Linked DNA regions of Homo sapiens: region 1 is linked to region 2. Evidence: fine-mapped QTL for protein levels in blood plasma. Region 2 holds a variant in brackets. A gene starts in the other region. All regions are shown on their reverse strands. Region 1 holds the start of LPO (lactoperoxidase). Region 2 overlaps BPIFB1 (BPI fold containing family B member 1).

Evidence for each region. PIP is the posterior inclusion probability: the model's chance that the variant is causal. The UK Biobank Pharma Proteomics Project read protein levels with antibody pairs (Olink). The fine-mapping took linkage between variants from a reference panel, not from the people measured, so its PIPs are less certain.
Region 1: LPO starts here. The variant in region 2 is fine-mapped to the plasma level of the LPO protein (UK Biobank, PIP 0.98).

Annotation. Positions count from the first base shown.
Region 1 is chr17:58,237,223-58,240,130 of GRCh38, reverse strand. It overlaps LPO (lactoperoxidase), which reads right to left and starts at 1,547. Exons shown (of 13, transcript NM_006151.3): 1 at 1,392-1,547.
Region 2 is chr20:33,288,548-33,291,455 of GRCh38, reverse strand. It overlaps BPIFB1 (BPI fold containing family B member 1), which reads right to left. Exons shown (of 16, transcript NM_033197.3): 3 at 2,574-2,715; 4 at 1,464-1,571; 5 at 350-499. Among named protein-coding and RNA genes, the nearest start is that of BPIFB1, 6.8 kb to the right of the region's middle. RefSeq lists enhancers at 1-875, 876-1,836. The variant T/A (reference allele first, on the strand shown) is at 1,549.

The DNA of each region.
Region 1 (2,908 bases), not on the chromosome of region 2:
TTTTCTCCAGGAAAAGTTAGATCGTTCCTTTTTCTGTCCTCCCACAGTATTTCATCCATATCTCATATTACTGTCTTCACATCTGTTTCCCCTATCAGACCATGAACTCCTCAAGGGCTCCATCTTATTTATTTGTTTTCCCAGGACCTAAGCATGTCAATACATAATAGGTGTTGGGTGCATGCTGAATGAATAAAACTCCTAGAGCAGAGAAATTCAGCATCTGGAGGTTGCAGAGGGAGAGGGCAGAGATAGTCCCTCGGCAAGCCTCTCACACTGTAATGTGCCTACTATCACCTAGGGATTTTGGTAAATGCAGATTCTGACTCAGAAGGTCATAGAAGGGGCCTGAAAGTCTGCATTTCCAGTAAGCTCCAGGTGATGATGATGTTGCTGGTCTGCAGACCACACTCTGAGTACCAAGGCCTTCCAGACTTTGGTTCTCAATGTCGCTGAGCAGTCACCAAGGAGATAGGGGGAAGGCCTGAGAAGGGATGAAGTCAGTGAGATTCTCTTCCATGATTGTAAAGAGCCCTGTGGAGGGTGGTGGAGTGAGCCAATAGGAAAGCCATAATTCTTGCCCCATCACCTGCAGGAACACTCTCTTGATCTTTTGAGTGACTCCAAGATCAGGATGAGAATGAAGAGATAGCTCTTATCAAGCCCTCTAGAGCGGAAATAATCTACTTCAACTGAAAGATTTGAGGCACACAATTGCATAAAAAACAAATATAATTTAACCACCCCATTCCCCCAAAATGAAGCCTGCCTACTACCGCTGCATACAGGTCACACACCTGCTTGAGAGCCAGGTGTCCACAGGGCACTTAAGACAGCTAGGACTAGACATTGAGGGCAAACTAGATGGTCGGATCTGCTGCAGATGGCAGGCATGAGATGCTGGAAATGAGATGAAGACCTGACAGCTCCGGCTTAGGGAACCCCTTAAAACACTGCAAAATCTCCACTATAGTGGAGAGGCCAGATTTCATCACACTGTCTCAAGAACAGCACAGGGAGCACCATTCTGTCACTGTTTTCCCCCAAATTCCTGTGTGACTCTGGACACATTAAATTGCTTAAGTCTCAGTTCCTAAACAAGGTGGATAAGAGAGGTCTATGGTACCTTCCAGCCCTAAGAGTTTATGATTCTCTGACATAGTTTTCAGACACAGAAAAGCCTTTTTCCCCCACAGTGGTGGGGGGAGGCTTAATTACATTCTCTCTTATACCAAACAAGAGGAGTGTGCCATGGGGTGGCTAAAGCTGGCACCAGAAAGTGCCTGATAGAGACAAGTCTAAATCCAGTGTTAAGCTTTCTGAGAAGACGTTAGGAAATTTCATCATCAACTTTGCAGAAACCAGGAAAGATGAAAGTTGACGAGTCTTACCTGCCCAGTGCCTTGTCTTTTCACGGCAGCCAGGGAGTTGCTCTGCTTGGAGGAGCTGGTCTTTTATACCTTCCAGCAAGAATTCACTTCTGGGAAAGGCCCAGAAGGAAAGATTTTGATGTGGCTTGGAGGAGACGCTGAGGCTTAGCAGGAAAGACTGTGTGACTCCGGGCAGATACACCAGGAAACTGCAGAATGGCAGGGATTGGTTGATGCAATAGCACTGACTGTGGGTGAAGCAACTCCTCTTTCCATTTTCTAGCTTAAATGCATGATCCTGATCTAGTTCCGGAAGGCAAAAACTGCATGCCCTGAGCACATTTGTCCCTTTTAAGCTCCTAATGGGATCCGAATAGCTCTTAGAATTATGAACAATTATTAGGTTGGTGCAAAAGTATTGCAAAAACCGCAATTACTTTTGCACCTAGCTAAATGGTTCTCCTCCCCATTCATATATTCACTGCCCTTTGATCCCTCCCTTACATTCCACCCAATTTACTGTGGAATCCAGTGGATTCATCTTTTGGATTTAAAGTGATCAATAAACATTAATTTTTTTGGTCAAAATTTCAAAATACTTTTGGCCACCAAAGGGTGAGAAGAGCCCTAAGCTTTCATAGTGGGTTGCAGTCCCTGCCTCTGCCATTGTATGGCTCTAGGCAAGTCACTTCACCTTCTGGTGTCTCAAATTTTCTAGTATTGAAATCAATGGTTGGTTTTGGTGATTATTATGATTCTATGACTTCATGCCTTCTATAGGGTGACCCATTTAAAAAACTCCAGAATCTGGGAGGCCAAGGTGGGTGGATCACTTGAGGTCAGGAGTTGGAGACCAGCCCAGCCAACATGGTGAAACCCTGTCTCTACTAAAAACACAAAAATTAACCAGGCATGGAGGTGCATACCTGTAATCCCAGCTACCTGGGAGGCTGAGGTGGGAGAATCACTTGAACCTGGGAGGCAGGGGTTGCAGTGAGCCAAGATCATGCCATTGCACTCCAGCCTGGGTGACAGGACGAGACTCTGTCTCAACAAAACGAAACAAAACAAAACCACCACTATCGTATAAATTATTGACCTAAAGCTCAAGCATAATGTTACATACCTTTCCTACCTCAATGACTTTGGAAATTCAAGTTCATTAGATTCATACAAGAAGGAAAAAGGAAGATTCCGAGAAAACAAAATTTCATGAAAGTATATTTTACAGACAGACAATTTAAAACATAATAAGCCTCTTTATGAAATTATACTTTGAGTTGAAAATACTCTGGGAGCAACTGTCAGAAATTTATCAACCCCAAAACAGACTTCTTGGTTCGCCTTCAAAAAAGTGATATTTCCTTTCTCTAGATGGTGGAATATATCTAAAAACTACTTCTCTCGTGATGAATCCAGGCAAATAAGCTGGGCATCTCGGAAGAAGGCAGCTGTCCAGGAGAGGTGAATGAGACATCAGGCTCTTCTTGTTTTCTTTGAAACACACTTCAGCTCCTTAGCCAAGCATTGTTTTTCTG
Region 2 (2,908 bases):
AAATGAAGAGAATGTGTTGGCCTGACCCAAAGCCTATGTTTTTGCCCCTGGCTCCACCTACACCTGCCCTGGTGTTTGGAGGAGTTTCTAGGCCTCCCCCTTCAAAGATTTGCCCCACCTCCCGGTGTCATGCCTGAAACCCACCATGGTTGCTTCTGACCTTGATGTCCTGAACTTCCCTTGGCATCACAGATTCCCTGGAAGGAGCCCCAGATCAGGAATCAGGAGGGGATAAGTCCCTTTCTTTCTCTAGGCCTCAGCGTTCTCCATTTGTAAAATGGGGGAAGTCCACTGCCTGGCGTTCCTTCCAGGCAGGATGGGAGCCCGGCTGGTGGCCAGCGACACTCACTTATGCAGCAGTTGGATGCGCAGGCTCCCATGGCTGGTGGCACAGTCACTGAGGACCAGGCGGGTGGGGCCACTTGCACTGGTGTCCATGCGGATGGTGGCTTGGGCCTCAGTCGTCATGTGGAACTCCACGATGGTCTTGACCAGGGGCCTAGCGGGTGGAGGCACCTGACCATGTGAGCACCAGGCAAGCTCGGGCTGGAGCAACCCTGCCGTCCGTCTCTGTCTTCCAGCCCTCACCTCCTTCCTCAGTCTCCTTTGCTGGTTTCTCCTCATCTTCACCCAACTTCACCCCAGCATGTCCCAGGCTCAGTTTTCAGACTCCTCTTTGGTTGAAACGTCTTTCGTCTGCTGACAGCTTCCAAACTTACCCCCAGCCCCCTACTCCGATGTCTCACGGGCTTCTCAAGTTTAGCGCATGCAACACTGGACTGGCTCTTCCCCAGACCTGCTCCTCTCATGGCCTTGCCTGTCTTGGTTACTGACCACTCCATCCTGCCAGTGGTGCAGGCAGAACTCTTGGAGTCATCGTTGACTTCTCTCTCTTTCCCCCTGAATACACATGCATATTCAGTTCCCCGGGATATCCTGGTGTCCCCACCTACCTCCAAAACATATCCAGAATCCAATCAACTTCTCAGCACCTCCCTGCCCCAAACCCTGGTCTAAGCCATCATTATCTCCTCCTGAATTGTTGCAGTAGCTTTGGGATAGCCTTCCTGTCTCCACTCTTACCCCCAGAAAGTCTTTTTTCCCCACAGCAGCCAGGAGTCTTTAAAAATGTGAAAGCACAGCATATCCCTCCTCTGCTCAGAATCCTCCCTGGCTCCCGTCCTACTCAGCAAAAGCCAAGTCCTTATCTTCTCCCAAGAGGCCTTGTATGATCTGGCCTCGGCTGCCTGCTGGCCTCATCTCCTACCATGCCCCCTCTCTCTTTCCCCTGTCTTTGCCATTCTTTGAGCAAGGCAAGTACACTGCTGCCACAGGGCCTCTGCACTTGCTCTTCTCTCTGCTCGGAACTCTCTTTTCCAGACACCTGCATGGTGGGGGCGGGGGAGGGGGAACGAGCAGATGAGCCTGTCAAGCCTACTGTACTTGATGGAGGGGTCACTCACGTGTTGAATCCAGCCACCATGTCCAGGGGGATCTTGACTAGCAGCTCCTGGTCATTGGCCGAGGGCTTCACCTGCAGCTGGAGGA[T/A]GTTAGCTGTGATGACCTTCAGCCTGGATGGGGTTTAGGAGAGATCAGAATCATGCCTCCGGCTCATTATTCCCAAATCCACTCCCTCTCTATCTTTTCCATCTCCCTGGGGTGCCTAGGCAGCAGCGGGACCCTGGCCCTGCCCACCGACTCCTCTCCAGATGGTCTTGCCTCCATCCCTCCCCTCCACTCCTGCTCACAATGCTATTATGGTGCCTTCTCTTCTAGGTGGTGACTCCCAGCTCCTTGAGCTGACTCATAAGACCCTCTGTGACCTGACCCTGCTGATCCCTTACTCCTTGCCTTGAGGTTTGAGCTCTAGCCATTCTGACCGACTGTCACTTCTCCATGCCTTTGCCCAGCCTGATTCTTCTACCTGGATGCCATTTGCTTCTTGTCTCCTGGTGAGCATTGAGTCATCGGCTCCACTGTCACCTCCAGTGAGAAGCATCACCTCATCCCTTCCCTGTGCCACCCCAGACAACCTTGCTCTGGGTTGTTTTTTTTTTTTTGTTTTTTTTTTTTTGAGACAGAATCTCACTCTTGTCACCCAGGCTGGAGTGCAATGGCACCATCTCAGCTCACTGCAACTTCCACTTCCCAGGTTCAAGCGATTCTCCTGCCTCAGCCTCCTGAGTAGCTGGGATTACAGGCTTCTGCCACCATGCCTGGCTAATTTTTATATTTTTAGTAGAGATGGGGTTTTGCCATGTTGGCCAGGCTGGTCTCGAACTCCTAACCTCAGGTGATCCACCCACCTTGGCCTCCCAAAGTGCTGGGATTACAGGCTTGAGCCACCGTCCCTGGCCTTGCTCTGGGGTTGTTGTATTAGGGTTCCTGTGTCACTGTCTTATGGTTCTTGTTAACTATTCTGGGAGCTTCTTGACGGAGGGGCTTTGTTTGATCCACTCTTTGTGATCTGACACAAGTCGATGCTTGCAGACTGGTTGACTGAGCATGCAGAGCGTGTCCCGGGCAAAGGTGTGGGAAGGGGCTAGCTCCTGGTGTGGTCCTGCTCCACTCACCAGATGATGTGCTTCAGGACGGTGTTCACCAGGCTGCCCAGCACAGGGATGCCTCCGGCTGGCTTTTCCCGCATGGCACTGAGCAGCGGCAGCTGCTGCAGGATGCTGGTGGCGTTGTGGTCCTTCAGCTCCTGTGTCAGCTCTGGAGGCAGACCCCAGGGATTAGGGCCCAGGAGGAGGGGCAAGAAGGAAGGCTTGGTGGGAGCTCCAGGCTGGGGAGGGGTATCACTCGAGGCTCCCTGAGGTAAGGCGAGGGTGTAGCCATCTCTACTGTGGTGGAGGTCAGGACCAGCCTGCCAGTCCCCACTGTGTAGATGTAGCCTTGAGGACAGTAG